Regions from separate parts of the Homo sapiens genome. Here region 1 is linked to region 2. The links come from fine-mapping of genetic effects on gene expression. A gene starts in region 2. The other region holds a variant in brackets. All regions are shown on one strand. Distances are between the middles of the regions.

Region 1 (15,630 bases), 43 kb after region 2:
TTCCATGAGGGGTGCCAAATGAGTTTAAAACCCAAAATCAAATACCTGCAGGATTTGAATCTATATTGCTCTCATGGGTAACTGCAAACAAAAATGTAGACTGGATAAATTACATTAACTATAATCAACAATGGTTTGCTAATTATACTAGGGATTCCATTAAAGGAATAGCTGAACAATTAGGCCCTACCAGCCTAATGGCCTGGGAAATTGAATAGCCCTGGACATGGTATTAGCTGAGAAGGGTGGGGTCCATATCATGATTGGAGTCTAATGGTGTACTTTTATCCCCAACAACACAGCCCCGGATGGAACAATTACAAAAGCCCTAGCAAATGAATTGGCCAAAAATTCTGGAGTAAATGACCCCTTCTCTAATCTCATGGAAAAATGGTTTGGCAAATGGAAGGGACTCATAACCTCAATCTTTACCCCCCTTGCAATTGTTATAGGTGTACTTATTCTTGTAGGTTGCTGCATTATACCCTGTATTCATGGATTAGTGCAAAGACTCATAGAAAAAGCTCTCACCAAAACCCCTCTTGCTTCTCCCCCACCCTACTCAGATAAGCTCCTATTCCTGAGTGACTAAGAGGAACAATAAAGTCAAGATATGTTAAGGAGACTTGACGAGGAAGAACTACCAAGTCAAGAGGGGGAAATTTGCCAAACCATCAGTTCCTCTTCAAACTTCCTTGTTCCTTTTAGCAACTAATGTCCTTTCACATTGCTAGAAAGGATAAATTCTTGTTCTCTAAACAAGACTTTCCATCTTTGCTGTGCCTAAACATGCCCAAATATGCCTTAATGGACAATCCCTCCCTCCCAACCTTTCTTTACAAGTTACGTGTTTAAAGGTTTCAGTTTACCCTATTTGGAAAAGTTTTACCACTCCTACCCCTTCTTCCCTGTCTACCCTATTTGGAAAAATTTCAAGTTTTAGCCAATCAGGTTAGCTTAAATTGTGTGGTCCGACTCCAGCCAATGGGAAAAGGATACAGAAACAGAAGCTGCATTAGGGATAAAAACCTTTCTCTCCTTTGTTCAGTGTGCTCTTGTGATTGTGACTGGTGCAGGCAGCAGCACCCTTCTGCGGACGTAAATTTGCCTTGCTGAGAAGTCTTTTGTTTGAGTGCTCATTTTCTTTGTGACTCTGAGCTCTTATTTCCAACACTGGGATTACAGACATGTGCCACCATGCCCAGCTAATTTTTGTATTTTTAGTAGAGATGGGTTTTCTCCATATTGGCCAGGCTGGTTTCGAACTCCTGACCTCAGGTGATCCGCCTGCCTTGGCCTCCCAAAGTGCTAGGATTACAGGTGTGAGCCACTGTGCCTGGCCATAATTCATTTTAAAAAGTTTATTCATTACTTATAGAGATGGGAGCTTGCTATGTTGCACAGGCTGGCCCTGAACTCCTGGCCTCAAGCAATCCTCCCACCTCAACCTCCACAGTATCCAGAGTACAGGCGTGCACCATAGCACCAGGCAACTGAGTGCAATTCAGCCCCTCCATATATACTGCCAAATGTTGGTCTCAAATATATACTGCCTCCATATATACTGCCCAGCTGGTCTCAAACTCCTGTCCTCAAGTGATTCACTTGCCTTGGTTTCCCAAAGTGTTGGGATTACAAGCATGAGCTACCATGCCTGGACTCAAATAGATAATCTTGTTCTTACCAAAGCAGTAACTGAGGAGTGTGCAGGACTCCTCCACCCACAGGTGATGCTTCTGACAGATCACAAAGGAATTTAGAATTCTAGTTTAACAATATCACTCTTTACTCAAGTGGAAGGGAGTATATATTTTTTCCACCTCTGTAAGTAAAGTTCATTTTAGCAGTTGGTAGAACTGGTGTCCTACCAACTAGGCTAGGTTTTCTACCTAGCCATGCCTATTTATGTCTTTGCAATCAAGAAAGATTCTCCATCCCTGGTAACAAAGCATCGTCTTCCTAAAGTTCACTTCACTGTATGAAGAACTGTGAGGATCTAAATTCTACAGTATTTCCCTTTGTGAGTTTATTAAACTCTAATGCTAGGCACATACACGTCTTTGAAAACTGCCTCAAACTTTCTCCTTCCTGGGACTTCCTGTAAATGAATTTCATTCTCACTGTCCCAACAGCTCCAATCCTAGGAATTAATTGAAAAATAAACTACAAACGTGAGCAGAAAAGCCTTCACAATGAATCCTAGAGAAAACAGTTCAATTATCTGAAAGGAGTGTTCCTTCCTACACCCATGCCAGACTCTGATTTTCCCATGCTAGCAACTGTGACATTACAGAAACATCTGTTCCTGACACTGTTCAACTGTTTAAATAACCAAGGAGGAGAAAAAAAAGATTTATAATTAAATAGTATTTAGGGTCCCAATAGTCAGAGTCCAATAATCCAAAGGTCATCTATGCAAAATTAGGAATATGCATTTTTCTCCAAAGAGTATCTTTGGCTTTAATCTGATTCTCAAAAGGATCCTATGATCCAAGAAAGTTTAAGAACCATTGAAACAGTAATTTATTCCTGAGCTATTTGACTGCCATCAATCCATTTGTTATAAAACTGAAGGGAAAACACACATTTGAATCACTTCTTCTAAAGCTTTAGTAAGTGATCTGTTCAAATAAGCAATTACATGAAAGAATAAAACCAAATTTCCAACCTAAAATTCTGACAGGAGAGTCAACATGATGGTTAAGGCCTATTTCATATTCAAACTTCAGTCTATGAAAGAGTAGAGAGAGAAGGGTCTCCTCTTTCAAATTAAATATTATAAAAACAATTAAAAAAAGGTATCAATAGTCCTAAAATGCAGCAACTCCATCTCAAACAAGCATGACACACTTCTGATCAGATGAAGTATTTACAAAGGTAGCTTGTGTTTTAAGCATGTAACACTTTGGGTGACGACAGAAGTTTCTCCTCTTTGGGTGAAACCTGCCTAAGGCTGTAGAGATGACCAACACTCTGCAGGTGTTAGTTCTGAATAACTACTGTGGGCTTTTCATGATCTTCCCTCCAGTAGGAGACCACAATTGAGTCTAAAGTCAGATCCACCGTTGTCTATGGGTAGGCAGGGTTGATTCAAACTTAATCCTTGTTTGTATTCTTTTGGATTACTGCAAAAACATCTAGGGACCAGAGTGAATGTCTGGTGAGGCATAACTGCAGAGGTGAAAGATGTCAAACATTTTCAATTTGGCAGTTTCTTCAAGGTGTGTGAAAATTCACATACAGAAGGTCTGGCAGTGTCTTCTGTAAGTTTTCGTGTTGCCGTATTTCTGAAGGAGCTCTTGGGCCTGCTGCTGCATTTCCTGGGCCAGACAGCCAGGAAAGTGGGACCTGATGAGAAGCAGGACGAGGCAGCACTCCAGCACATCTGGGAAGGGCCAGGCCTGAAAGACGATGACATGAGGATGAATAAGGAAGCATTTGCAGAAGAGCCACAAACACCTGCACAGAAGGCACCAGTCACTCAGGTTCATCTATAGACACTTCTTGGACACAGCTGAGCCAGCTGTCTCCTAAGGCAATGTCCTGTCTTTCTCTTCAACAGTTACTCCAAGGAGAAATGACACTCAAAACTAGGATGGCTACTGCGATGTCCTTCTCAATGGCACAATCTCTTTCTACAGCCCTATGCAAATCCACCCTTAAAAATGGTGCTTCTATTAATATTTGGGCCCACAGCCAAAAAGACCTGTCCATCTGTAAGCTATCTAATACATGGCACCAATTTAAATTTTACTTCTTACCTATTAAATCTATTTGGTTTCTCTGAAGATTGAGGTATAAAATTACTTGTGTGATCGATAATTCTAGTCTCACAAAACATTCTAGCTAACCAAAGTAATTGGATTCTAAATTCTTTTTTTTTGTTTTGTTTTTTTTTTGAGACAGAGTCTCGCTCTGTTGCCCAGGCTGGAGTGCAGTGGCGTGATCTTGGCTCACTGCAAGCTCCGCCTCCTGAGTTCACGCCATTCTCCTGCCTCCATGCTATTCTCCTGCCTCAGCCTCCCGAGTAACTGGGACTACAGGCACCTGCCCCCACGCCCGGCTAATATTTTGTATTTTTAGTAGAGACGGGGTTTCACCATGTTAGCCAGGATGGTCTTGATCTCCTGACCTCATGATCCGCCAGCCTCAGCCTCCCAAAGCGCTGGGATTACAGGCGTGAGCCACCACGCCCAGCCTGGATTCTAAATTCTTAAGCACATATGAATGGGTAGAGATTTTAGAAACTGAACAGAGAGGTAGCTGACCTTTATAAGAATGTGGTATAGTCAAGTGATAACACAAAAAGTGATGCTTTACCAAATGAACTGCTTTAACTCTTACCTTAATGCTCTCAGGAAATTTCGCCATTCTCTGATTTGCCTCGGTAAGCCTTTTGGTTAACTCAGGCAGAGAAAGTGGCTCATTTTTTTCTTCTTTACTAGTGAAAAAAATAAAAGGTGTAAATTGTATGTCTTGCCCTGGGTAACATTTTTCTCCCATTGTTATTTTACTGTGGTAAAATGTATATAACATAAAGCTTACCATCTTAGCCATTTAAAAATACATAGTTCAGTGATTTTAAATAAATTCATAATGTGGTGAAAAACATCCCCACCACCCATTTCCAAAAACTCTTGTCATTTTGTAAAACTGAAATCTTATACCCATTAAACATTAACTTCTCATTCTGCTTCCCTTAGCCCCTGTCAACATTATTCTACTTTCTGTCTCTATAAATTTAACTATTTTGAGTAGTTCATATAAGTGGAGTCATATAGTATATGTCTTTTTGTGACTGGCTTATTTCACTCAGCATGATGTCCTCCCTTCGTAAGGCTGAATGACATTCCATTGTATGGATATGGCACATTTTGCTTATCCATTCATCTGTCAGTGGATACTTAGGTTGCTCCCGTGTTTTGGGTATTATGAATAATGCTGCCATGAACACAGGTGTGCACATATTTCAGACCCTGCTTTCAATTCTTTTGGGTGTATACCCAGATGTGGAAGTGCTGGATCCTATGGTCATTCTATTTTACATTTCTGGAGGAAGTGCTGCTGTACTGTTTTCCACAGTGGCTGCATCATTTTACATTCCCACCAATAGGCACAAGGGTTCCAATGTCTCTGCATCCTCCTCAACACTTGTTCTGTTTCTCTGATAGTAGCCTAATGGCTATGAAGTGCTGCTTCACTGTAGTTTTGATTTGCATTTCCCCAATGATGAGATGTTGAGCATCATTTCCTGTGCTTACTGGCTTTTTAGAGAAATGTCTATTCAAGTCCTTTGCCCATCCTTGAATTGGATTATCTTTTGTTATGCCTGGGTAGCTTTTACCTTTTATTTTTAATATTTTTTAAAAATTTAAACTTTTGCCTATGACACAGCCCTCAGGAGGCCCTGAGAGCATATGCCCCTGCCTGGGTTACTTTTATCTCATTTTATAAATAAAATTCCTTTGTCACCTGGCTTCTTAAAATTTAATTTTTTTTTTTTTTTTTTGTAGAGACAGGGTCTGTCAACCAGGCTGGTATGAGTGGCATGATCGTATCTCACTACAGCCTCGAACTCCTGGGCTTAAGTGATCCTCCCACCTCAGCCTCCTGAGTAGCTGGGACTACAAGTGCATGCCACCACTACTGGCTAATTTAAAAAAATTAATTTTTCTAGAGACAGGGTCTCAATATGTAGCCCAGGCTGAACTTGAGCTCCTGGCCTCAAGTGATCCTCCTGCCTCAGCCTCCTAAGTAGCTACAGGGTACATGCCACCACACCTGGTTACTTTATTTGTATTTTTTGAGATGAAGTCTCCCTCTGTTGCCCAGGCTGGAGTGCACTGGTGCGATTTTGACTCACTGCAACCTCTGCTGCCCAGGTTCAAACGATTCTCTGGCCTCAGCCCCCCAAGTAGCTGGAATTACAGGCATGTGCCACCATACCCAGCTAATTTTTAGTAGAGACGGGGTTTCACCATGTTGGCCAGGCTGGTCTCAAACTCCTTACTTCAAGTGATCTGCCCACCTCGGCCTCCCAAAGTGCTGGGATTACAAGCGTGATCCACTGTGCCCGGGCTTTTTTTTTTTTTTTTTTTTTGTAGAGACAGGGTCTCGCTTTTTTGCCCGGGCTGGTGGTGAACTCCTGGGCCAAGTGATCCTCCTGCTTCAGCCTCCCAAAGTGCTGGGATTATAGGCATGAACCACTGTTCCTAGCCAGCAGGGTCATTTTTCATTCCGTCTTGTACTTGCCTCAGTACTTACCACTGGCTCTGAGAACTGCAGAGGGGCTGCTCTGCTTCTACTTCCGGTTCATTCTTATCAGGACCATTTGCTGTGGATTTACAGAGTTGACTCTTTTGGTGTTGTCGGATCATTTCTGCCAAGGTCTCTTGGACTTCAGCAACAGTTCTCTGTGAGTTTTGGAGACTGGCATGCTTTTCTGAAAAGAGCTCCTTAAAAGTACTCAGCATTCGCTCACCTTCTTCTGTGAGTCTCAAGTCTAGTTCTGAAGGCCTGTTTGGCTCTGGCTGAGAAGTTTCAGGGTCCGTTTCTTCAGTGCTGGCAGTGTCTAACTGCTGGCTTGGCTCAACAGAGAGTGTTCTGTGACCAGCCCTTACCCAGACACTGGAATTTGGGCAAGGTCTGGAGAGAGACCACCAGAATTCATACAGACGCCCATAAAGAAAAAAGGCCTCCAAACTTTTGAAAGCTGGTGTGGCAGGGGATTGATGGTCCCCCAACTTGTCTCTTAGGTGGTCACAGCCTAGGAAAAGAGGAAAAAGATACTGGGTCATGCATTTCTCTAGTTGCCAGAAATGTGGCTTCCTGCCCTTATGTTCTATTTCTTATCAACCAAGAAGCAGACCCCAGGAAAAAGGACAACAGTGTGATCCACCGGGCCACATGCCTTTCCACCAAGAGCCAACTGGAGGCTAAACATTTCCTGGCTTGCGACAGTGTTCTCATTACTACATCCTAGGAGTCATTCAAAGCATGATAGAGTATTCCATTTGTACTACTGAAGGCTCTGGGGCCACGACAACAGATCACACTGTCTCTCTGAAAAATCACAATGATTTAGTTCAGTGACTGACTATGCAGCCCAAGGAATGTCTATCTTTTTTGCTGTTCTTTTCTGTTCTTACTAACATGTAACTACATTCCTATTTCTCTCTCCCTTAAACTTTGTGGAAAGTGGACAGGAGGCTGTAAGAGGGTAGGGCCAGGTAAAGGAAACAGTATAGTTGTTCTTAAAAGCTTCGGTAAGAGAATCCAAACTTTCTACTAAAATGACACAGCTGGCCAATCTCCATCTTTTAAGAATCTAGGTACTCCCAGTGCCACACCACTAATGGTGGTGATGTTGTCCATTAAAGGGTGTGCCTCAGGCAGCAGGAAGTCACTTACCGTCAGGGAGAAAGGCTGAGTACACTTCCTGCATGATGGTGAAGCTCCCTGAGTCATAGCTCCGGACCACCGCCCGAAGGAGCGCCTGCACAGCCTCGTCCCAGGAGGCCATCTGTTGGCTCAGCACTGCCAGGGTCAAGTCATGGCAAATGTGAAGCAGGAGCTGGAGAGAGAAGCCAGAGTCTGAGTTAAACATCCTCCCACGGTAGGCGCAGAGGATGCCACCAAACTGTTCCTGTGAACCGCATTTGGAAACAAGTACACACAATTCACACTTTGAAAGTTCCTCTTGTCTCCGCCACCCATTTTTGCTTCCCACATCGGAAACTCTCATGTCTAGTTGCACAGCAGCACACACACGTCCCGGTGTTAAAGTCTGTTCACACTGAGAAAACACCTTTACATTTGCATTTAATTAAAACAAAAAGTGGGCCAGGCGCGGTGGCTCATGCCTGTAATCCCAGCACTTTGGGAGGCCAAGGTGGGCAGATCACAAGGTCAGGAGTTCAAGACCAGCCTGGCCAACATGGTGAAACCCCGCCTCTACTAAAAACACAAAAATTAGCCAGGCATGATGGCGCGTGCCTGTAGTCCCAGCTACTCGGGAGGCTGAGACAGAAGAATTGCTTGAACCCGGAAGGTGGAGGTTGTGGTGAGCTGAGATTGCGCCACTGCACTCCAGTCTGAGCATGAGAGTGAGACTCCCTCTCAAAACAAACAAACAAACAACAAAAACAAAAAGTGAGTTTCTGGAACTAAAAGCTGTAATTAAAAACAAAATAAAGGCTGGGTGCAGTTGCTCACACCTATAACCCCATCACTTTGGGAGGCTGAGGCGGGCGGATCACCCGAGGTGAAAGCCCGTCTCTAAAAAAAAAAAAAAAAAAAAAAAAATTAGCCGGGCTTGGTGGTGCACGCCTGTAATCCCAGCTACTTGGGAGGCTGAGGCGGAAGAATTGCTTGAACCCGAGAGGCGGAGGTTGCAGTAAGCCACTACACCCGAGCCTGGGTGACAGAGTGAGACGCTGTCTCAAAAAAAAAAAATCAAAACCCACCAAAAACAAAACAAAACAAAGCTTGGAGTACAACTAAGAAAAATGTGCTCAATTTTAAGTATGTAGTTTGAGAAACATATATAGTTACAACACTACCAGCAAAATCAAGACAGAACATTTTCATCAACTGAAGATATGCCCTCCGGCTCCTCTGCAGGCGATCTCCTGGCCCCACCCCACTGGCAACCACTGAACTGGTTGTCACTTTAATTTTTTCTTTTCTAGAATTCATATAAATGGAACCACAGAGTATATAGTCTTTTGTGTCTTTAAAGCTTTTGAGATTCACCGATATTCTTCTTCTTCTTCTTTGTTTTTTTGAGATGGAGTCTTGCTCTGTCGCCCAGGCTGGAGTGCAGTGGCACGATCTCGGCTCACTGTAAGCTTGGCCTCCTGGGTTCACACCATTCTCTTGCCTCAGCCTCCAGAGTGGCTGGGACTACAGGAGCCCGCCACCACGCGCGGCTAACACCGATATTATTTGTGTGGCAGTAATTTGTTCCTTTTTACTTTCTTTTTTTGAGACAGGGTCTCATTCTCTTACCCAGGCTGTAGTGCAGTGGTTCCATCTTGGCTCACTGCAGCCTCCGTCTCCCAGATTTGAATGATTCTCCTGCCTTAGCCACCCTAGTACCTGGGATTACAGGCTTGTGCTACCACACCCGGCTAATTTTTGTATTTTTACTAGAGACAGGTTTTTGCCATGTTGCCCAGGCTGGTCTCAAACTCCTGAGCTCAAGCGATCCACCCGCGTTGGCCTCCCAAAGTGCTGGGATTACAGGTGTGAGCCACCAAGACTGGCCCTTTTTATTGTTAAACAGTATAGTATTTCACTGCATAGACACAACACAGTTTGCATATCCATTCATCAGTTGATGGACATTTGGGTTGTTTCTAGTTTTTGGCTACTGTGCACTAAGCTGCTGTAAACATTTGTGTACAAGTCTTTGTGTGGCCATCTGATTTCATTGTTTTAGTGGAATATCTAGGTAGCAGAACTGCTGAGACATGGGGCATGTGCATGTTTAACTTTATAAGAAACTGCCTGGCCAGGCGTGATGGCTCACACTTGTAATCACAGCACTTTGGGAGGCCGAGGCAGGTGGATCACATGAGGTCAGAAGTTCAAGACCAGCCTGGCCAACATGGTGAAACCCTGTCTCTACTAAAAATCTGAAAAATAGGCTGGCTGCAGTGGCTCATGCCTATAATCCCAGCACTTTGGGAGGCCGAAGTGGGCAAATCACGAGGTCAGGAGTTCGAGACCAGCCTGGCCAACATGGTGAAACCCCTGTCTCTACTAAAAATACAAAAAATTAGCCGGGCATGGTGGCAGGTGCCTGTAATCCCAGCTA[C/T]CCGGGAGGCTGAGGCAAGAGAATTGCTTGAACCTGGGAGGCGGAGATTGCAGTGAGCCAAGATCATGCCACTGTACTCCAGCCCGGGTGACAGAGTGAGACTCCATCTAAAAAAAAAAAAAAAGTAAAAATATTAGCTGGGCGTGGTGGCACATGCCTGTAATCCCAGCTACTTGGAAGGCTGAGGCAGGAGAATTGCTTGAACCTGGGAGGCGGAGGTTGCAGTGAGCAGATATCATGCCACTGTACTCCAGCCTGAGCAACAAGAGTGAAATTCCGCCTCAAAAAGAAAGAAAAGAAAAGGAAAAAAGAAAAGAAAAAAAGAAACTGTCCAATTGTTTTTCAAAGTATATACCATTTGAGAAGCCTTGTTCCTCATAAATATCATAATGTTCCCTCATTTTGAAATGAGGGAAAGAACTACGCCAGGCACAGTGGCTCATGCCTGTAATCCCAGTACTTTGGGAGGCTGAGGCGGGAGGATCACTTGAGGAATTCGAGACCAGCCTGGGTAACAGTGAGACCCAGTCTCCAGAAAGGAAAAAAAAAAAAAAAAAGAAGTAGGTATATTCACAAGGCAGACATAGCAGTTAAAATAAATCAACTGATCTCTTTTTATCAACATGGATAGATTTTACAAACAATGGCCTCTGAAATAAGCAAACAGCAAAACAATACATGTGGCACTGACACAGGAGGTGCCTGTGGCGAGCTAGGGAAGGAGTGAAGGGCTGAGGAAAGGAACAAGAAGGACTTCAACTTTGCCCTACTGTTTTTATTTTATAAAGTCCTCAAATCAAAATACAAAATGAAACCAGAAAACCCTACAAAGTAAAAATGACAAAATGTGAACATCTGTTAATTCTGGTTGATGGGTTATTACATTATTCTGCTTTTCTATATTTTCTAGACTTTTTATTTTACTTTTTTAGAAAAGGAAATAGTGGCTGGGCGTGGTGGCGCACGCCTGTAATCACAGCTCTTAGGAGTCTGAGGCGGGAGAATCACTTGAATCTGGGAGGTGGCGGCTGCAGTGAGCCAAGATCATGCCACTGCACTCCAGCTTCAAACAACTAAAAAAAACAAAACAAAAAAGGGAATACTGATCTAATACTAACTTTAAAGTTAAAGGGCTTTGATTAGTCTAAAGGGATCTTTCCAGGTGGCGTGGCCATGCCTTAGCCTTTTCTGAAACACAGTCCAGTATTCTGCTTGTTTCCCCGTTACAATAGACATGGATTAAGGAAGTCTTACCACTGAGTGATTAATGTCAAATGCTGGTACAGATGGCTTACCTGTTTGGCAGGTGTGTTATTTGTAGCAGATGGGTACTTGATGTTCTGCAGCTTCTGAAAGGCTTCCTGATACTGCTCAGGGGTGTCAAGGCTGAAGATGCTCTTCCACACTGCAGTCACCCTCTCCACGAAAGGCCCTTCGGTGCCCGTGTTCCAAGTGTGGTAAGAGGAGGAGCTTTTGCCCTCTGAAAGCTGCTTTTCCTCCAGATGCCTGGACAGTAGCTCCAGAAGGCAAAACACCAATCTCTGACCCTGGAACACGACAACAAGGAAGAGGAACTGTTATACAGGGAAAGCACTGGATGATCTCGAGAGCTCTCCCGTGTCCTTCAAAGTATTTCCCTTTGTATCTGCAGCAACCAAAGCACATTAGTGAGCTACCTGCCCCATATGAGTCATGCATGAAAAGAGACAAAAGGGGCGATCTGACAGACACTTCCCAGGTCCCTTTTGGGGGAAATCTATCCTTAGAGCTCAAGAAACCATTTTTATAACACAGAATCCCAACTGTAGCACTACCCACAATGATTTAAGCCACACACAGACCAGCCACTTAAGCCTTGTAGCCTAGTTTGAGGAAAAGAAGGGCTGGGCTCATCAGGTTCTTTCTCCCTGACCAAACTTTGGACTCAGGAATAAAAGCATAATGGGCCAAAGGTGCTGGAATAGACAAGCTTTGCAGATCCAAGAGCTGGGACAGGCATTAGGAGCCATGTCCAAATAGGTTTAATAGAGGAAGCTGGCTGGGAGAGAAGAAAACAGAAGCACAGAGAAGGCCTAGAAAATCTACTTTCACTAGATTTTTAGTTGCCATGAGATTCCTTGTGTACTCCTATAACAATATCTTCTCAGTTAAGCTTGCAAGAGTCTCTGTTGCACAAAACCAAAATAGCCCTTATCAGAATATTTAGCATATGCTTATTAGGTTTTTTTGCTTTGTTAAGGATGCTGTTTAAGAGAAAAATAAAATGCTAAACAGTCATTCTGGAAACTTTTTTTGATGGTGGATAAATTAAAATCTTTCTAGACTTGGTCATTTTATAAATAATGCCCAGTGGCATTATCTTTTAGGGTGTCCTATTTTCACCTCCATTTTTATTCTGCTGTTCCTAGAAAGCTACCTCCCCATGTACCACGTTCCTTGGGCTCTAAATATTCAGCTAAAAACCATCTGTAGGCCCTGTACTCTGTTAGAGAATGAAGAACTTAAAAAACCTCTTGTTAGTATCTCACAAAGTTATCTAAAGTGAATCAAATGTTTACATGTTTCAGAAACTAGGTAAGTGTGCCAATGCTTTAATCTGTTTTGATGTGTCAAAAAGGCAGTGGTATGTTACTGATTTTTAATCAGATGGGAACAAAAAAATTTAAGAAATAAAGAGATTTCCATTTTCCCACACTTTTCTCTTTTTTTTCTGAAGAGTCTCACTCTGTCACGTAGGCTGCAGTGCAGTGACACAATCTTGGTTCATTGCAACCTCTGCCTCCTGGGTTCAAGCAATTCTCCTGCCTTAGCCTCTCAAGTAGCCAAATTACAGATGTGTGCCACCATGCCTGGCTAATTTTTTTATTTTTAGTAGAGACAAGATTTCGCCATGTTGGCCAGGCTGGTCTTGAACTCCTAATCTCAAGCGATCTGCTGCATCTGGCCCAGTTTTTTTTCCATAGCTTACAGTTAAGAGGGGCATTTACAGGTAGAGTTCCATGATTTCTGTTAGAGGCCAACCATTCTCTCTTCAAGGAAGACAGTGCTGATAACATCAATGAAGAAACCCTAGACTGCCAACCCAAGGCCTGGGCTGACTAAGGTGTTTTTTTTTGTGTTTTTTTTTTTTTTTTTGAGACAGAGTCCCACTATGTTGCCCAGGCTGGATCTTGGCTCGCTGCAACCTCCGCCTTCCGGGTTCAAGTGATTCTCCTGCCTCAGCCTCCCAAGTAAGCTAGGATTACAGAAGCGTGCCACCACGCTCGGCTAATTTTTGTATTTTTAGTTGAAACGGGGTTTCACCATGTTGTCCAGGCTTGTCTCAAACTCCTGACCTCAAGTGATCTGCCTGCCTCGGCCTCCCAAAGTGCTGGGATTACAGGCATGAGCCACTGTGCCCGGCTCACAGGTGTTTTGTACAAACAGATAAGCAATGGGAATTACTGTGAATGACCATATTATCTCTTACTCTGAATACGGCAACTAACAAGTCATAGTACTTCAGTGGGATAGCATGGCCAGGGCTTGCTGGGCCTGCCAAATTGGCACAGCTTGTGCAACTGGGTTATTAACTTGGATTTGACTAGAAAAGGATTTGGGACACTTCCCTCTTGTATACTAGGAGATGAAATAACAGACTGACCTGTAGACTTTCATGCAGCTGCAGGGCTTCCTGGGCTCCCACCCAGTTGTTGGCCAGAAGCAGCTCTTGGGCACATCTGAGAGCCAGGGAAGCAGACAACTCATCCTCTCCTACGATGGCAGCCAACTCTGCAGCCGTTCTAAGTGATGCCGCATCCCCCTTTTTGGCCAAAACTTTGGCTGCATCATAAGCACAAGTGGCCCCTAAATAGCTATAATATGAATAAAAATGTGAAGAAAATGTCACAAACAGATTTTTATTCCCATTCCTAGAGGATGGAATCATTTCTTTCTATCTACTTTGCTGCATGTGCCTTCCTGTGGTCCCAGGTATGTCACTGCCCCGGTTGTTCCTGTGAAGGCTGAGGCCAACACAACTCAGCAGAGTGTATGAGAAACAATATCATATAGGTTAAGGACATAAGGAAAATGAGAGGGAATGACTCCTCTGTTGGGTTCAATCCAGCATGGGTTGAGGTTCCTTTATTTGATGTTATAAGAGACCATTAGAAAAATGCATAATTTCTTAATCTGCTGCTGAGGTTTTTCTTGAATAGTTATAGTGATTTATATAAATAAATCAGGAAGTAGTTCCTGATGAGTCTTATGAAACTAAGTTGAATATACATATCTTTTAAATAATTCCTTGCTGCTTTACCTCCACCTCTAAACTTATTACTTGTATTCTTGTCCTCCCCTTCCTGGCAGAAGCTCTCCTATGTTGGAAGCATCCCTCCACTCCTCAGGCTTACCATTTGGCAGCTACAGCATAGTGGCCATCTCTTTCTAGGACGGTTCCCCAGCTGAGGTACAAGTCCTTCAGGACTGGGTCCTCCGGGCGCAGCCGGGCCTTGGCAATCGCAATAGCTTCCCTAAAGGCAAGAACAGACCCTTTAGCCAATCTGAAAAGGCTCCTCTGTGTATGGTCCTAGGAGGGGCTGTAAGACAGGACAAACTGTCCCTTTTGTGTTGTCTTATTGTTCCAACTTCCTTTAAAAACTGCACTTGCATTATATAGACAAATTAGAAACATATGCTGCATTCGTTTCTTCACTTAGATCAGCAGTTCTTAAATTGTGGTCTGTGGATTCCTAGGGGGTCCTCAAGAACCTTTCAGAGGGTTCATGAGGTTAAAACTATTTTCGTAACAATGCTAAGAGTCAGTTATGTGCTTTTTTATTAAAAAAAAAAAAATGTGTTGACATTTGCACTGATTGTGCCAAAGCAGTGATTGGGAAACCTGGCATCTAAGAAGGAAGGCGGTGGCTCTTACAGTGGAAAAAAAGGAAGAATGCCCTTAATGAAGCAGTAAAAATTACAAATTTTACTAAATCCGTCAAGTCCAAAACACTTTAATATTCTGTGTGACAAATGGGAAGAACATTTTGTGTTCTCTGCTGCATTCCAAAGTAGAATGGTTGTCTCTAGGTAACACCTGTATGAACAAATTACAAGCTAAACTGGCTGCTTTTTCATAGAACCTTCTTTCTTCTAAAAAAAAAAAAAATGACTAACATAAATAACAGTTATTCAGTGTTGGGTATTTGGCAGATGTTTTTCTCAAAAATGAACAAAGTAGGCCTATCACTTCATTAAAAACAACCAACAGTATTTGTTACTAATGATAAAATGCGAGTTTTCTAGCAAAAATTAGAATTTTAGAAAACTTGTACCTACCACTTGTGTGCCTGAGTTTCCCATAAGTTAGAATTTTCTGATGAGACTGATGGTGATAGTAAGGAATGTGGTATTTTTGGGTATTTTATAATAAGATATGTTAACATTTGGAAGATCTGAACAACTCAGTAAACAAATATTTTTCAAATGACATACAACTGCTGAGTTGTAGCCAACATAAAGTTGTAGCTGGGAAAAAAGTGTTTTATTAGATTAAAGTGATCTAGAGAGAGCAATATTTTGAAAGTATTTTGGGACTTCTACTTCCAGCCATGATGGAGTAACTGGGACCAGACTTACCTTTCTGCCATAAAACTAAAAAACTGGACAAAATGGCTGAAACAACTGTTTTTAGATACCAGGTAACAGGCAGCATAGGATGGTCAGCCCTAAGAGAACAGAAACAAATGATGGGAGCCCTATCTTGGCACTGGCTTTCTGCCCAAAGCCATTTTCCTAAGGAAAACCTGAGCAAAACCTCAGCAGTCTCT
Region 2 (15,630 bases):
ACTTTTAGGGCTAAACCTATCAAATGTTTCATTTCCCCCACCCTTGTTGTTTGTTTGTGTGTTTTTTGTTTTGTTTTGTTTTGTTTTTTGAGATGGAGTCTCACTCTGTCACCTAGGCTGGAGCGTAGTGGCACAATCTCAGCTCACGGCAACCTCCACCTCCTGGGTTCAAGCAATTCTCCTGCCTCAGCCTCCCTAGTAGCTGAGATTACAGGCATGCACCACCATGCCCGGCTAATTTTTTTGTATTTTTTTTTTTAGTAGAGATGGGGTTTCACCATATTGGCCAGGCTGGTCTCTAACTCCTGGCCTTGTGATCCACCCGCCTCGACCTCCCAAAGTGCTGGGATTACAGGCGTGAGCCACTGCGCTCAGCCCTTTGTGTGTTTTTTTTTTTTTTTTTTTTTTTTTTTTGAGACAGAGTCTCACTCTGTCACCCAGGCTGGAGTGCAATGGTGCAATCTCGGCTCACTGCAACCTCTGCCTCCCAGGTTCAGGCAATTCTCCTGCCTCAGCCTCCCGAGTAGCTGGGATTACAGGCACGCACCACCATGCCCAGCTAATTTTTGTATTTTTTTTTTTTTAAGTAGAGATGGGGTTTCACCATTTTGGCCAGGATAGTCTCAATCTCCTGACCTCGTGATCTGCCTGCCTCGGCTTCCCAAAGTGCTGCAATTACAGGTGTGAGCCACTGCACCCGGCCCTTTTTTTTTAAAAAAAAATAGAGATATAGGGTCTTGCTATATTGCTGAGGCTGGTCTCTAACTCCTGGGTCTTATTAAGAGATCCTCCTGCCTCAGCCTCCCAAGCACTGGGATTACAGGCATGAACCACCAGGCCCAGCTCAAATATTTAATGACAAGGAACCAACTGTCAAAAGAAACACCTCAACTTGGGAAATACTTGGGAGATCTAAATGTCTGCAAACCATTTGAAAACAGGCAGAGCCTTCACGTTAGTGTGGATTTCCCTCTTCAGTGTTTGTTAGGAAGGATAAAAGGTTCTGTTGACCCTGTTGAGATAACCATCCTGTTTGGGAAGGGAGTAGAGAGGATTTGGGGTTTGTTTGTTTGCTTTTCAAGCTTACAGAGCTCTTTTTGCTATGCCATGCCACAGGGAACTTCACTCACAAGTCCAAGTCTCCTAGCCTTTTCCCTGTCTTATCAACTCCATTATCTTTGCTAAGAGCTTGCAAAGCAAACGAGACATGGCCTTTGATCTTTAGGAGCTCATCCATTCCTTCCAAAAACATTTACGAACTTACTATGTGCAAGGAGCTGTAGAAAGTGCTGAAGATGCAAAAATGAGAAACTCTCAGTCTGGATACATATTCATCATTCTGAAATTTATATCAAAGTACTGGGCTAGAGGTCTATGCCAGAGCTAAGAAACTACTAGACAGGTAGGAGATCTGGTACACCAAGAAATCTCTATAGGAAGACAATGTCCAGGCTTTCTTCATGCTCTTGGATACATGGTCTCCAACTTCAAAACTGAACTTTCTTCCCAGACTGCATTTTAGCTTATCCAAAGAATGCTGTTTTTAGTCAGACCATAGTTAAACAAGATAGATAGAAGAGAAAAAAATATTTAACAGTCTGCCACATGAATACCAAAATAGCCATTGAAGACATTCCTTACTCCATTATTTAGTTAAGAAGAAGCAGTATACTTTTTATGAGGATATAGATGATGATTCCAATAAAGAAATAAGTTTGGCCAGGCACAGTGGCTCATGCCTATAATCCCAGCACTTTGGGAGGCTGAGGCAGGAGGATTGCTTAAGCCCAGGAGTTCAAGACCAGTCTTGGGTCGGGTGCAGTGGCTCATGCCTGTAATCCCAGCACTTTGGGAGGCTGAGGTGGGTGGATCGTTTGAGGTCAGGAGTTCAAGACCAGCCTGGCCAACATGGCAAAACCCTACCTCTACTAAAAATACAAAAATTAGCTGGGCATGGTGGCGGGTGCCTGTAATCCCAGCTACCAGGAGGCTGAGACAGGAAAATTGCTTGAACCCAGGAGGTGGAGTCTGTAGTGAGTCGAGATTGCGCCACTGCACTCCAGCCTAGGCAACAGAGTGAGACTCTGTCTCAAAAAAAAAAAAGACCAGCCTGGAAAACATAGTGAGACCCTGTCCCTACAAAAAATTAAAAAGATTAGGTGGGACGATCACTTGAGCTGGGGAGGTGGAGGTTGCAATGAGCTGTGATTGCACCACTGCACTCCTGCCTGGATGACAGAGCAAGACCCTGCCTCCAAAAAAAAAAAAAAAGAAAAAGAAACAAGTACATATAGAGACTGAGTCAGATAAAGACCAAAACAGAAATAAGTGCACAGAAGTTTTGCCTCTCTGGAAGAAGTGGTATGCTTTCTTATGGTGTGCAAAGAAAATTGGACAATCCATTTTTCCCTCTTTTTAAAGCACCTGTTTATTTTCTCTACAAATCACACCTTCCCCACCAAAATGATTTAGGTTATTGTCTGATGGTTTCTTATCAGTTTTTATTTATTTGAAGCTGTTCTATATATCCTTTTATTGGAAACTACCTCAAACCCTTTTGACATATAGGCTGGGTATAAAGTATAAATAAACAGAATCAGATATTGAAATTAAAAACAAAAACCAAGAGGAACTAGGATGACTGTCAGTACAATAAGATCTTGGCTCTGGAAGAAGACAGCTCTGGTTCACTCTACAGGGCAGAGTGCTGATCATGCCCACTGTGTCCATGTTATGGAAACTGCGTATTGCTGAGACTGAGTGATTAGGGGCTGATAAGTATGTTTGACACTGGACTCCTCTGCTCTACGTACACCTTCTGGCCAAAGGGAAAATGATTGCTTACTTTCTGGTGGTGAGAAGGCTTCTCGGCTGTAAGAGCAGCAGCATTTATCTGTTGACATCTCATTTCATTAGAACAAACAAAGCATTTCCTGACATGTCATTTATTCTTTAGTTACGCCAATATGGCCATATGCAATTTCCAGAGATACTTATCTAGGTACTGAGTCCTCCAATTGTATTGTTCTGCTGAATATGTTATGCCAAAGCAGCTTGCTTTCTGTGCCTCTCTGCCCGCCTGCAGACATGTTTTCAGTTTTACATGAACATGGTCAGTCAGAAAGGTTCTAGGGGAGACCTCAAACATGGTAGGCAGTGGGTCTTCACCCAAAGAAGCTCCTTAACATTGTTTGCTAATGATAGTGTTCAAGTTAGAAATTTTGGCAAATAAAACTAGCAACAACATTTACTAATACACTGAAGTACCATAGTCATTACTTTCTGTGACTTGACTAATTCTTTTTTTCTTCCTTTTGGAGTGTGCCGTCTTAAGAACTGGAAGTTGGACTGGGCATGGTGTCTCATGCCTATCATCCCAGCACTTTGAGAGGCTGAAGCGGGAGGATTGCTTGAGTCAGCCTGGGAAACACAGGCCCTATATCCACAAAGTATTAATATAAAAAAAATTAGCCAGGTGTGGTGGCTCATGCTGCAGCCTGGGCCACAGAGGAAGACTCTCAAAAAACAAAACAAAAAACAAGCAAACAAAAAAAAACAAACTGGAAGTTGTATTAGAGCTCATCTATTCAGATGCCCCCATTTTCCAACTGAAGAAACAGAGGTGCAGAGGTATTTAGTATTTGGCTTCAAGTTGGACACCTATTTTTTTTTTTTTTTTAGATGGAATCTTACTCTGTTGCCAGGCTGGAGTGCAGTGGCGTGATCTCGGCTCACTGCAACCTCTGCCTCCCGGGTTCAAGCGATTCTCCTGCTTCAGCCTCCTGAGTAGCTGGGATTACAGGCATGCGTCACCACACCCAGCTAATTTTTGTATATATATATATATATTTTTTTTTAGTAGAGACGGGGTTTCACCATGTTGGCCAGGATGGTCTCGATCTCCTGACCTCATCATCTGCCTGCCTCGGCCTCCCAAAGTGCTGGGATTACAAGCGTGAGCCACCACGCCCAGCCTGGACACATATTAGTGGCAGAACTTGAATTCAGTGCTCATTATACCAACTGAGACTACAAAAGTATAGAATACATTGATGTTGAAGAGCACAGGGTGAGTGTCAGGGATTGAAAGGGACACAAAAGCATGAGATTGGCCTATATTAGCCATGAATAGTGAACTAGATAGTGTGTGTGTGTGTGTGTGTGTGTGTGTGTTAATACCAAAGGACACGTTTTCTCTAAAATACTAATCATTCTTTCAAGAAACATTTATCAGATGCCAGAGACAATGCTAGACATGGGATAGAAAGATGAATAAGACATGCTTTTTGCCCTATTTTATAACATCGTATAACTTTGATTTTCCAGAGAAAGTAGGAGGATAATAGCATACTTATTTTAGAATGGAATGCATTCAGAGGACAGAAAGAAATGAAGTGTACTAAAAGTAAATATTTTTTAAACATTTATTTTTTTAATTTTTAGAGATGGGGTCTCACTATTTTGCCCAGGCTGGTCTCAAACTCCTGGGCTCAAGTGATGTTCCCACCTCAGCCTCCCAAAGTGTTAGGATTACAGGCATGAGCCACCATGCCTGGCCGAAGGTTCTAATATTTTACAACAATGAATGGATACTTCCTTAAAGTGAATTTGATATTCTATTGTGAGTTTATCCAAATTTTATTTATTTATTTATTTTGAGACAGAGTTTCACTCTGTCCAGGCTGGAGTGCAATGACCCAATCATGATTCACTGCAGCCTCGACTTCCTGGGGTCAGGTGATCCTCCTGCCTCAGCCTCCCTAGTAGCAAATTAGATACTTTTTAGTGTGGTTCTGGTTTTTTGTTTGTTTTTTTTTTAGTGTGAACCAAGGATTTTATTTATTTTTATTTTTTAGAGATAGCATCTTGCTCTGTTGCCGAGACTGAAGTACAATGGCTCAATCATAGCTCACTGCAGCCTCAATCTTCTATGCTCAGGTGATCCTCCCACCTCAGTCCCCTGAGTAACTGGGACTACAGGTCTGTGCCACCATGCCGGCGAATTTTTAAAAAATTTTTGTAAACATGGGGTCTCCCTATGTTGCCCAAGCTGGTCTTGGACTCCTGGGCTTAAGTGATCTTGGTCTCCCAAAGTGCTGGGATTCCAGGCATGAGCCACTCTGCCCTGCCTATGTGGTTTTGTTGAAAGCAGATGATTCTCAGTATGCAGGCTTTTTATTAAAGAATCCCCAATCTAGATAAATGACACAGTGAAGCTATAGCTAATGTTTACAACTTCAAGAATCTGAGTAAAGGACATGGGAATAAGGTGAGGCTGGAAGGAATACAGACGGTTTAATCTTGAATTTTATTTGTCTACAGCCCAACTCTTTCAGATTTTCTTTTTTCTTTCTTTCTTTCTTTTTTTTTTTTTTTTTGAGATGGAGTCTCGCTCATGTTGCGCAGGCTGGAGTGCAATGGCATGACCTTGGCTCACTGCAGCCTCTGCCTCCCGGGTTCAAGCGATTCTCCTGCCTCAGCCTCCTAAGTAGCTGGGATTACAGGCACCCACCCCCACCATGCCTGGCTAATTTTTTTATTTTTAGTAGAGACGGGGTTTCACCATGTTGGCCAGGCTGGTCTTGAACTCCTGACCTCAGGTGATACACCCACCTTGGCCTCCCAAAGTGCTGGAATTACAGGCATGAGCCACTGCGCCTGGCCCAGATTTTCTTTCATATTCTTGTTTCCTGGATATTCTGCATGATTGATGAATGTTCCTTTTTTTTTTGAGACAGAGTCTTGCTCTGTCACCCAGGCTGGAGTGCAGTGGCGCGATCTTGGCTCACTGCAAGCTCCATCTCCCGGGTTCATGCCATTCTCCTGCCTCAGCCTCCCGAGTAGCTGGGACCACAGGTGCCTGCCACCACGCCTGGCTAATTTTTTGTATTTTTAGTAGAGACAGGGTTTCACCATGTTAGCCAGGATGGTCTTGATCTTCTGACCTTGTGATCCGCCCGCCTCGGCCTCCCAATGTGCTGGGATTACAGGCGTGAGCCACCATGCCCGGCCTACTGAATGTTCCTATTTTATAGATATAAATACATCACCTTTATGTGAATGTGTATTGTTTTGTAAACAACTTGTAAAATTGTTGAGACAATTTACTCTTAGAGGGGGGAGAAAAAAGACCTCATGTTCATCTGGTCTACCCCTTCCATTTTATAAGCTAAGGAGGAAGCCCTAGTTAGTAGAAATGACTTGCTCCAAACTCCACATGGTTTCTGGCAAAATCTAGGCTTCTTAACACTTTGCCTAGTGCTGTATGTATTTTGGGAATAGCATAACTTCTATTTCATAAGAAATGACACAGGGAGAGGGCAACTGACCCAAAGATTAGAACTCCCCTTACTTCAGCCTCTGCTCTCAGACTGTATGCTAGGAAAAAGCTGAGCAGTCGACCTCCAGGGCTGAGGAGACTGACCTGTAATGTAATTACACAGTTTAAAGCCTCTGGTGAAGAGGGTTTTGAGGAGCTGCTATGACTCAACATCTGTACTAATCTGAGGCTTATATAGAAGATAGAGTGGCCGATATTCATTTAAGAAGATGAAATGCGGCCAGGAGCGGTGGCTCGCATCTGTAATCCCAGCACTTTGGGAGGCCGAGGTGGGCAGATCACCTGAGGTCAGGAGTTTGAGACCAGCCTGGCCAACATGGCGAAACTCCGTCTCTACTAAAAATATAAAAATTAGCCGGGTGTGGTGGTGCACGCCTGTAATCCCAGCTGCTCTGGAGGCTGAGACAGGAGAATCGCTTGAACCTGGGAGGCGGAGGTTGCAGTGAGCCAAGATCATGCCACTGCACTCCAGCCTGGGCGCCAGAGCAAGAGTCTGTCTCAAAAAAACAAAAAAAAACAAAGATGAAATGCGGCTGGGCACGTTGGCTTATGCCTGTAATCTCATAACTTTGGGAGGCCGAGGTGGGTAGATCACCTGAGGTCAGGAGTTGGAGACCAGCCTGGCCAACATGGTGAAACCCCATCTCTACTAAAAATACGAAAATTAGCTGGGTGTGGTGGCGGGCACCTGTAATCCCAGCTACTTGGGGGGCTGAGGCAGGAGAATCTCTTGAACCCAGGAGGTGGAGGTTGCAGTGAGCTGAAATCGCGCCACTGTACTCCAGCCTGGGTGACAGAACGAGATTCCATCTCAAAAAACAAAAAAAACAAAAACAGAAGATGAAATGCATGAAAGGAAAGGTTAAAAATGATTCCCATGGGCCAGTTTTAGTAATACTCTCTTCACTCCTTTTGCTGCATGGTACTTGCACCCTTTGAGCTTACTGTTCTGCTTGATTGCATGTCCATGAGGCCGAGAATCTGCCTGTCTTGTTTACCACGAGATCCACAGAATCAAGCCCAAGCCTGGCATGTAGAAGATACTCAAGAAAGATTTGCCGAATAAATAAGAGATACACGAATCAAAAGCATTGCTTTTTGCCCTCAAAAAGTGTTCAACATTTGCTATGGAACATTTTAGCACCATTCCCTTGTGCTAATTACTTTCGTAACTAAAGTTAGAAGCTGATGCTCAGTGCATCTGTGTTTTAGCAAATTGAATTGAATCTGTATATCCCACTCAAAGAAATTTAATTGGAATTGCACATGAAACTGAAGCAACCCACAAATCAGCATCTTGTCTTGCTTGCCTTAAGCCCCAGAAGGTCCTGAAAGCCACTGTTCTATTGTTCATCTCCACCTACACACTTTACTGTATGCCCTTTACTCAATAACCTTCGTGGAGTGTTTCCATAGGTACTATCAAGCCACTAACGATTTCACAACTGGAGCCACTGTTGGTAAATCCAAGTATGTTGCATCAAAACAGTTTCAACCTACTTGTCTAGCTCATAGCCCACACATCTATCCAGAGACTTTAAAACTGTTGTATTTTGCCCCATACCTTCCTGGTGATGGCAGAGTAGAGATGAGAAGCAATTAGGCAGCAGTTGCTTCCCAACAGTCTCTTCCAGTTTGTTCTGCCTCTCATTTGAGTTCTGAATTAGGAGTTGCTCCTTTACAAATGGTTTTAAAGTCAAACAATTACTTGTCCATTACAATCACCTGTCAATTGCTAGAAAAATTAGACTACTGAGGAGGTAGATGGTACAAACACAGGCAGAGGATACAGACATTAGTAAGAGACAAGGAGGCGACTGCACTACAGCAATGTCCTAGGACAAATTCTAACCCTGCCATCTAACCCTGTTTAGAGGCAAATCTAACCCTGCCATAAGTAGAGAGGACAGGGTGGTGGCAGAGGTGGGAAGAGTGTTGTTTTGCCCTTACTTTAAGTGAACCTGGACATGTCCTGACCTTTGCAAACACCACCCCTCCCCCGTAGTTCCCACTTACCTCTGCAGTGGGCTGTGTCCAAGCTGCTGAGGTCCTTGCACAGGTCAAATCTAAGTTCTCTTCCCTTTCAGCCCCCGCTTTGGTGGCTGTTGCTGCTGCGGCTCTGCTGCAGGCTAACCTTGTTTTTGCTCGGGTGGGAGGCTGGCCATGGTGATCTCATTACAGAGCTGCGTACTGGCTCGGACCAGGCACGTGATGAAAAAAGTTTGGGTCTGTGTGGGCTGGAAACAAAACACCCTTCTTTCCAGAGGGCATGTCCTTAAAGCGGAAAGGGAATCTAAGCTCAAGCAGGAACTTGAAAAACGTGCATTTGGCCAAACTCTGGGCTTCCCTCCCCCTGCCCCCTTTTTTTCTTTTAAAAAATTTTCTCCATCATCTGCAACTTAAGAAAATGTCGCTGTCCCATAGGAGGAGGCAGATTCAAGAAAAGATGTGGGTGTCAGATAATGGCAGGTAGTACAAGTTGATAAAAAGGTGACAGAGACCAGAGGATCTCATTTTCTTTTTTTTCATTGCTTCTTTTCCTGTGGAGGGCAGGCAAGGGAGGAGAGATGCATCAGCTATTTCTAGTGAGTCTAGATGCAGGAAAGGCATGCCTGTGGAGGGTAAATTTGCACTGTGATTGAAATAGGGGAACTTAGGATACAGGACCCATGACATGAAGTGAGGAGCACTTTGGAAAAAGAGCTGCTTTTAAATTTCTGAAAACTTTTTAAATAAGCAAATGTGCAAATGATATAAAATACAATAGGGTCAAAAGAATGTACAATGAAAAGTCTTTTTTTAATTTCTCCTCAGTCCCCTTTTTTTCCTCCCAAGAGACAACCTCTGTGACCAGATTTTTGTATATCCTTCCAGAGCTTACCTCTGTAAATAGAAACATGTGTAGGCCTTGTGCTTCTCCTTTAGCAACAGCACCATAGTATGTTTGTTGTGCACCTTGCTTTTTCCACTTAACAATCAAACATGGAGATTGGCTAGGCATGGTGGTGCTCACCTGTAGTCCCAACTATTTGGGAGGCTGAGGTTGGAGGATCACTTGAGCCCAGGTATTTGAGACCAGCCTGGGCAGCACAGGAAGACTCCTTTCTAAAATAAACAAAACTCAGAAACTTGGCTGGGCACGGCGGCTCACATGTATAATCTCAGCACTTTGGAAGACCAAGACGGGAGGATCACTTGAGGCCAGGAGTTCAAGACCAGCCTGGGCAATGTAGCAAAACCCCATTTCTACTACATATACAAAAAATTAGTAGAGCTTACTGGCACATGTCTGTTATCCCAGCTACTGGGGAGGCTGAGGTGGGAGGATGGCTTGAGCCCAGGAGTTGGAGGCTGCAGTGAGCTATGATTGTGCCCTGCACTCCAACCTGAGTGACAGAGTGGGACCCTGTCTCTAAAAAACAAAACAAAATAAAAAATGCCGGGTGCAGTGGCTCATGCCTGTAATCTCAGCAATCTTTGGAAGGCTGAGGCAGGAGGATTTCTTTTTTTTATTTTTTGAGATGGAGTCTTGCTCTGTCACCCAGGCTGGAGTGCAATGGCATGATCACAGCTAACTGCAACCTCCGCCTCCTGGGTTCAAGCGATTCTTCTGCCTCAGCCTCCCGAGTAGCTGGGACTACAGGTGTGCGCTGCCAGGCCCGGCTAATTTTTGTATTTTTTTTTTTTAGTAGAGATGAGGTTTCACCATATTGGCCAGGCTGGTCTTAAACTCCTGACCTCATAATCTGCCCACCTCAGCCTCCCAAAGTGCTGGGATTACAGGCATGAGCCACCACCGTGCCTGGCCTGGCAGGAGAATTTCTTAAGCCCAGGAGTTAGAGACCAGCCTGGGCAACATAATGAGGCCCTGTCTCTAAAATAAATAAAACTGTCAACAACAAAACATGGAGACTGCTCCATATAGTACCCTTAAGAGCTGCCATGTTCTGTTTAATGGCTGCCTCCCGTCCCATTGTATAGATGTGTCATACTTTATTTGGCCAATAAAGGACCATGTCTTCCTCATTTTCCTTGCCTAATTCGTTGCACAAAGCAAGGGCTCAGTAAACATTCAATGCTTGCTCACAAATTAATTACATTTTGTACAACTTGTTCATGTTTTTCCTCATCTCTCCTTTCAGAGATACTAATTTTTTTCAATATTCCAGATATTGCAGAATGTCTATATTTTCCAGCTGACCAAGTCTATCTTGTGCACTGAACAAACCTGTGCTACCAGACTTCCAAGACTCACTTTAGTTTGGCTCCTCTCAGATGATATTATTTCCTATTCCCTCCTACTTTCTATTTTTTAATTTTTTTATTTTTATTTTTGAGATGGAGTCTCATTCTGTTGCCCAGGCTAGAGTGTAGTAGCACAATCTCGGCTCACTGCAACCTCCGCCTCCTGGGTTTAAGCGATTCTCCTGCCTCTAAGCGATTCTCCTGCCTCAGCCTCCAGAGTGGCTTGGACTACAACAGGCGCCTGCTACCACGCCTGGCTAATTTTTTTTTTTTTTTTTTTTTTTTGTATTTTTAGAAGACTCAGGGTTTCACCATGTTGGCCAGGCTGGTCTCAAACTCTGACCTCAGGTGAGAGTTCTGAGGTTACAGGCATGAACCACTGCACCTGGCCTATTTTTAAAAATTTCTTGGCCGGGCGCAGTGGCTCACGCCTGTAATCCTAGCACTTTGAGAGGCCGAGGCGGGTGGATCACGAGGTCAGGAGATCGAGACCATCCTGGCTAACACGGTGAAACCCGTCTCTACTAAAAGTACAAAAATTAGCCAGGCGTGGTGGCGGGCGCCTGTAGTCCCAGCTACTCAGGAGGCTGAGGCAGGAGAATCGCTTGAACCCAGGAGGCAGAGGTTGCAGTGAGCCGAGATTGCGCCACTGCACTCCAGCCTGGGCGACCGACAGGGCGAGACTCCACCTCAAAAAAAAAAAAAAAATTTCTTTAGACACAGGGTTTCACTCTGTCACCCAGGCTGGAGTGCAGTGGCTCAACTATGGCTCACTGCAGTCTCAACCTTCTGGCCTCAAGTGATCCTCCCACCTCAGCCTCCCAAGCAGTTGGACTACAGGCACACACCACCATGCCCCACTAATTAAAAAAAAACATTTTTGGAGAGACAGAGTCTGGCTATGTTGCCCAGGCTGGTCTTGAACTCCTGACTCAAGCAATCCTCCTGCCTCAGTCTCCCAAATTGTTGGATTACAGGTATGATTCACTGTGCCTGGCCTCCTTCCTACTTTCTAATGCCAAGCATCACTGTCATGTGCAAACATTTATTGTTCACTTACTATGATGTACAGAAACTTTTTTTCCTATTTCCTATTGTCTCCATGTCCATATCTTTGCTTACGCTAATCCTCTCACCTGGAATTTCCTTCCTGTTCCTGTCAAGTATTGTGCCTCCAGTTCTTTTCTCTCTCTCTCTCTCTCTTTTTTTTTAAGAGATGGGGTGTTGCTATGTTGTCCAACCTTGTCCCAAAATCTTGGCCTCAAGTGATCCTCCTGCCTCAGCCTCCCAAAGTGCTTTAGCCTCCCAAAGTGCTAAGATTACAGGTGTGAGCCATTGTGCCCGGCCTAATTCTTTTCTTCTTGAACTTTTGTAGTTTAAGTGGTCAACACTCCCTGGAGTAGCAGGTACTTTTTTTCCTACAATCATTTCATATAGGGTCTTTATGTATTTCCATGGCAGTAATAACTCTGGCACTAATAACACTGGTCTTCAGTAAATAGTTGATTGCTGAGCAAGCCTTATAGAGAAGAGCATCTGTCTAGTGAGAAGCTCTCCAGCCTTCCTGGGTTTTCTCTCCATCCTATCTTTTTTTCTTTTTTTTTGTTTGAAATGGAGTCTGGCTCTGTTGCCCAGGCTGGAGTGCAATGGCATGATCTTGGTCCATTGCAAACTCCACCTCCCAGGTTCAAGCGACTGTCTTGCCTCAGCCTCCTTAGTAGCTAGGATTACAGGCACCTGCCATCATGCCCGGCTAATTTTTGTATTTTTAGTAAAGACGGGGTTTCACCTTGTTGGCCAGGGTGGTTTTGAACTCCTGACCTCAGGTGATCCACCTTCCTCGGCCTCCCAAAGTGCTGGGATTACAGGCGTGAGCCACCACGCCCAGCCAGCTGTGTGGTTCTTAAGGGGTCCCATTCATTTTATAACGAGTGTTTCTCAATTTTGTTTATTTATTAATTTTTTTGAGATGGAGTCTCTCTCTGTCGCCAGGTTGGAGTGCGGTGGCGTGATCTTGGCTTACTGCAACCTCTACCTCCCGGGTTCAAGCAATTCTCCTGCCTCGGCCTCCCGAGTAGCTGGGATTACAGGCGTGTGCCACCACACCCAGCTAATCCAGGGGTTTCACCATGTTGGCCAGCATGGTCTCGATCTTCTGACCTCGTGATCTGCCCGCCTTGGCCTCCCAAAGTGCTGGGATTACAGGCGTGAGCCACCGCGCCTGGCCTTCTCAATTTTCTTAAACTTATACTCTCCTGCTGGGCGTGGTGGCTCAGGCCTGTAATCCCAGCACTTTGGGAGGCCAAGGCGGGCAGATCACCTGAGGTCAGCAGTTCGAGACCAGCCTGACCAACATGGAGAAACTGTCTCTATTAAAAATACAAAATCAGTCGGGTGTGGTGGTGCATGCCCGTAATCCCAGCTACTCGGAGGCTGAGGCAGGAGAATCGCTTGAACCCAGGAGGCAGAGGTTGCGGTGAGCCGAGATCGCGATATTGCACTCCAGCCTGGGCAACAAGAGCGATACTCCGTCTCAAAAAAAATGAAAAATAACAACAACAACAACAACAAAAAACAAAAACGTATACCCTCCCAAATGAGATTTGTTCGAACCTGACTTTCTATAGTTTGCAGCTCAAAAACAATAGGGGCCAGGAGCAGCGGCATGCACCTGTAATCCCAGGCACTCAGGAGGCTGAGTGAGGAGGATTACTTGAGGCTGGGTGCCCAGGGATTCAAGACCAGCCTGGATAACGTGGCAAGACCCTCATCTCAAAAAGCAATAGAGTTTTCTTCTCAAATATGAAATGATGTAACTGAATATATTCTTTTCCAACTACCCTCTCATTCATTAGGGGCTTCCTTCCGACTGGGAAGCAGTGACTTCTGGAAAATTATTCTAATTTTGCGATATCCATGAGTACAGCATCATATCCAATGTTCAAAACGTTAACACTCTAGGCCGGGTGCGGTGGCTCAGGCCTGTAATCCCAGCACTTTGGGATGCCAAGGCGGGAGGATGACGAGGTCAGGAGATCGAGAACATCCTGGCCAACACATTGAAACCCTTTCTCTACTAAAAGAAAATACAAAAAATTAGCCAGGCGTGATGGCTGGCGCCTGTAGTCCCAGGTACTAGGGAGGCTGAGGCAGGAGAAAGGCGTGAACTCGGGAGCCGGAGCTTGCAGTGAGCCAAGATTGCGCCACTGCACTCCAGCCTGGGCGACAGAGCGAGACTCTGTCTCAAAAAAAAAAAAAAAAAAAAGAGTAACACTCTAACTTCTCCTAAAATAAAATCCATCTGTTTGCTTTATATCTATTTTCAATAATTTGAGAAACGAACACCCAATTCTGGGTGAGGGGTGGTAGTGAGGCTGGACATGGTGTTTCCTGTTTGTTTTAGCACACACCAGGCCCAGTGCCACAGGAAAAAACAAAATTCCAAGAAAGGATTGGGGAGGCCGCTTTTCATGTGACTACTGCCTGCCTGTCAGCGCTAGCCTCTTCTGACTCTAAATTACAAGTGGAAGAAAGCACGTTAGAAACCCACAGAACTGGCCCGGCGCGGTGGTTCAGGTCTGTAATCCCAGCACTTTGGGAGGCCGAGGCAGGCGGACCACGAGGTCAGGAGATCGAGACCATCCTGGCTAACAGGGTGAAACCCCGTCTCTACTAAAAAAAGAGAAAAAAATTAGCCGGGCATGGTGGCGGGCGCCTGTAGTCCCAGCTGCTCGGGAGGCTGAGGCAGGAGAATGGCGTGAACCCGGGAGGCGGAGCTTGCAGTGAGCCGAGATCGCGCCACTGCACTCCAGGCTGGGTGACAGAGCGAGACTCAGTCTCAAAAAAAAAAAAAAAAAAAAAAAAAAAAGAAACCCATAGAACTGACTGGGGGATGGGGCACTTGCCTGCCTTCTTTATCAGTGTATCCCTCAACGGAATCACTGTTTATTTTTTTATTTTTTGAGAGGGAGTCTTGCTGTGTCGCCCAGGCTGGAGTGCAGTGGCACGATCTAGGCTCACTGTAACCTCCGCCTCCTGGATTCAAGCAATTCTCCCTGCCTCAGCCTCCGGAGTAGCTGGGATTACAGGTGCCCTCCACCACGCCCAGCTAATTTTTGTATTATTTAGTAGAGACAGGGTTTTGCCATGTTGGCCAGGCTGGTGTTGAACTCCTGACCTCAGGTGATCCGCCTGCCTTGGCCTCCCCAAGTGCTGGGATTACAGGCTCAGTGAGCCACCAATCCCGGCCCCAAATCGACTGTTTTAGGGAGAGCAAACTGAGACATGCCATTTATTGAACGCTCTTTTATATCTTCCTCGGTGCGGGGTGTTTTTCCAATTATTAACTATTTAATCTTCACAAGCTCACGACAGCCATTCGTAACCTAATTTTGCAGATAAGGAGCTAGACACTCATTTGGGGGGGAGAAGAGGAGGACTGGAGTTCAGAAAGTGCATTTGATGCTCTTATCCTGGAGGCTGGAGCTAGTTCACCTCCCTGGAGAACAGCTTTTGGGAATCCCGTTTGAAATTGCCGCTCAAGGCCAGCTCGGCATCCAGCCTAGGAATTGGAGGATTTTGGAGAATCCCCTTAGGGGGAAATGTTTAAAAGTGCAAAGTGAATAGTAGAAGCCCCTCTCCTCGTCACTAGGGGTACATTTGCCGTTTTCTTATCAACAGCCTCTCAAGTACAAGCATCTGGGACAAGAACTAGAACCGTGCTTGGGGCAGCCCCCACGTCCTCTCGGGAACAGGGGTGGAGCGCTGGCGGGAGTGGCTGAGGGCGGCCCGCCGCCGACACTGTGTGCAGGAAGCGGGCGCTTTGTCTGCTCTCCCACCGCGGAGAACACGAGGCGGAGGCGCGCCCCAGCTGGCCACACGCTGCCCAGGGCCGGCGTCGGTCAAGAGCCCTCTCTTCAAGCAGGATTAAGAGGGAACCAAGGGGCTGGCAGAGGGGCCTCAGAAGCTCCTGGGCGAGGCCTGAGCCCGTGGGTCTCGACACTAAAATCTGGCGAGCTCCCTGCGCGTCCGCAAAGATTTTGGAG

The links. PIP is the estimated chance that this variant, and not a neighbour inherited with it, causes the effect. A credible set is the group of variants that fine-mapping cannot tell apart.
Region 1: its variant is the best candidate, but not a certain one, in a credible set for the expression of FAXDC2 in whole blood (INTERVAL, PIP 0.75).

What each region holds. Positions count from the first base shown.
Region 1 is chr5:154,884,977-154,900,606 of GRCh38, forward strand. It overlaps GEMIN5 (gem nuclear organelle associated protein 5), which reads right to left. Exons shown (of 28, transcript NM_015465.5): 22 at 14,215-14,334; 23 at 13,464-13,674; 24 at 11,116-11,367; 25 at 7,411-7,573; 26 at 6,265-6,766; 27 at 4,345-4,441; 28 at 2,435-3,401. The coding sequence ends at 3,234. Among named protein-coding and RNA genes, the nearest start is that of CNOT8, 34 kb to the left of the region's middle. The variant C/T (reference allele first, on the strand shown) is at 9,821.
Region 2 is chr5:154,842,127-154,857,756 of GRCh38, forward strand. FAXDC2 (fatty acid hydroxylase domain containing 2) reads right to left here and starts at 8,477. Exons shown (of 9, transcript NM_032385.5): 1 at 8,357-8,477. RefSeq lists a silencer at 803-1,097 and an enhancer at 15,295-15,630.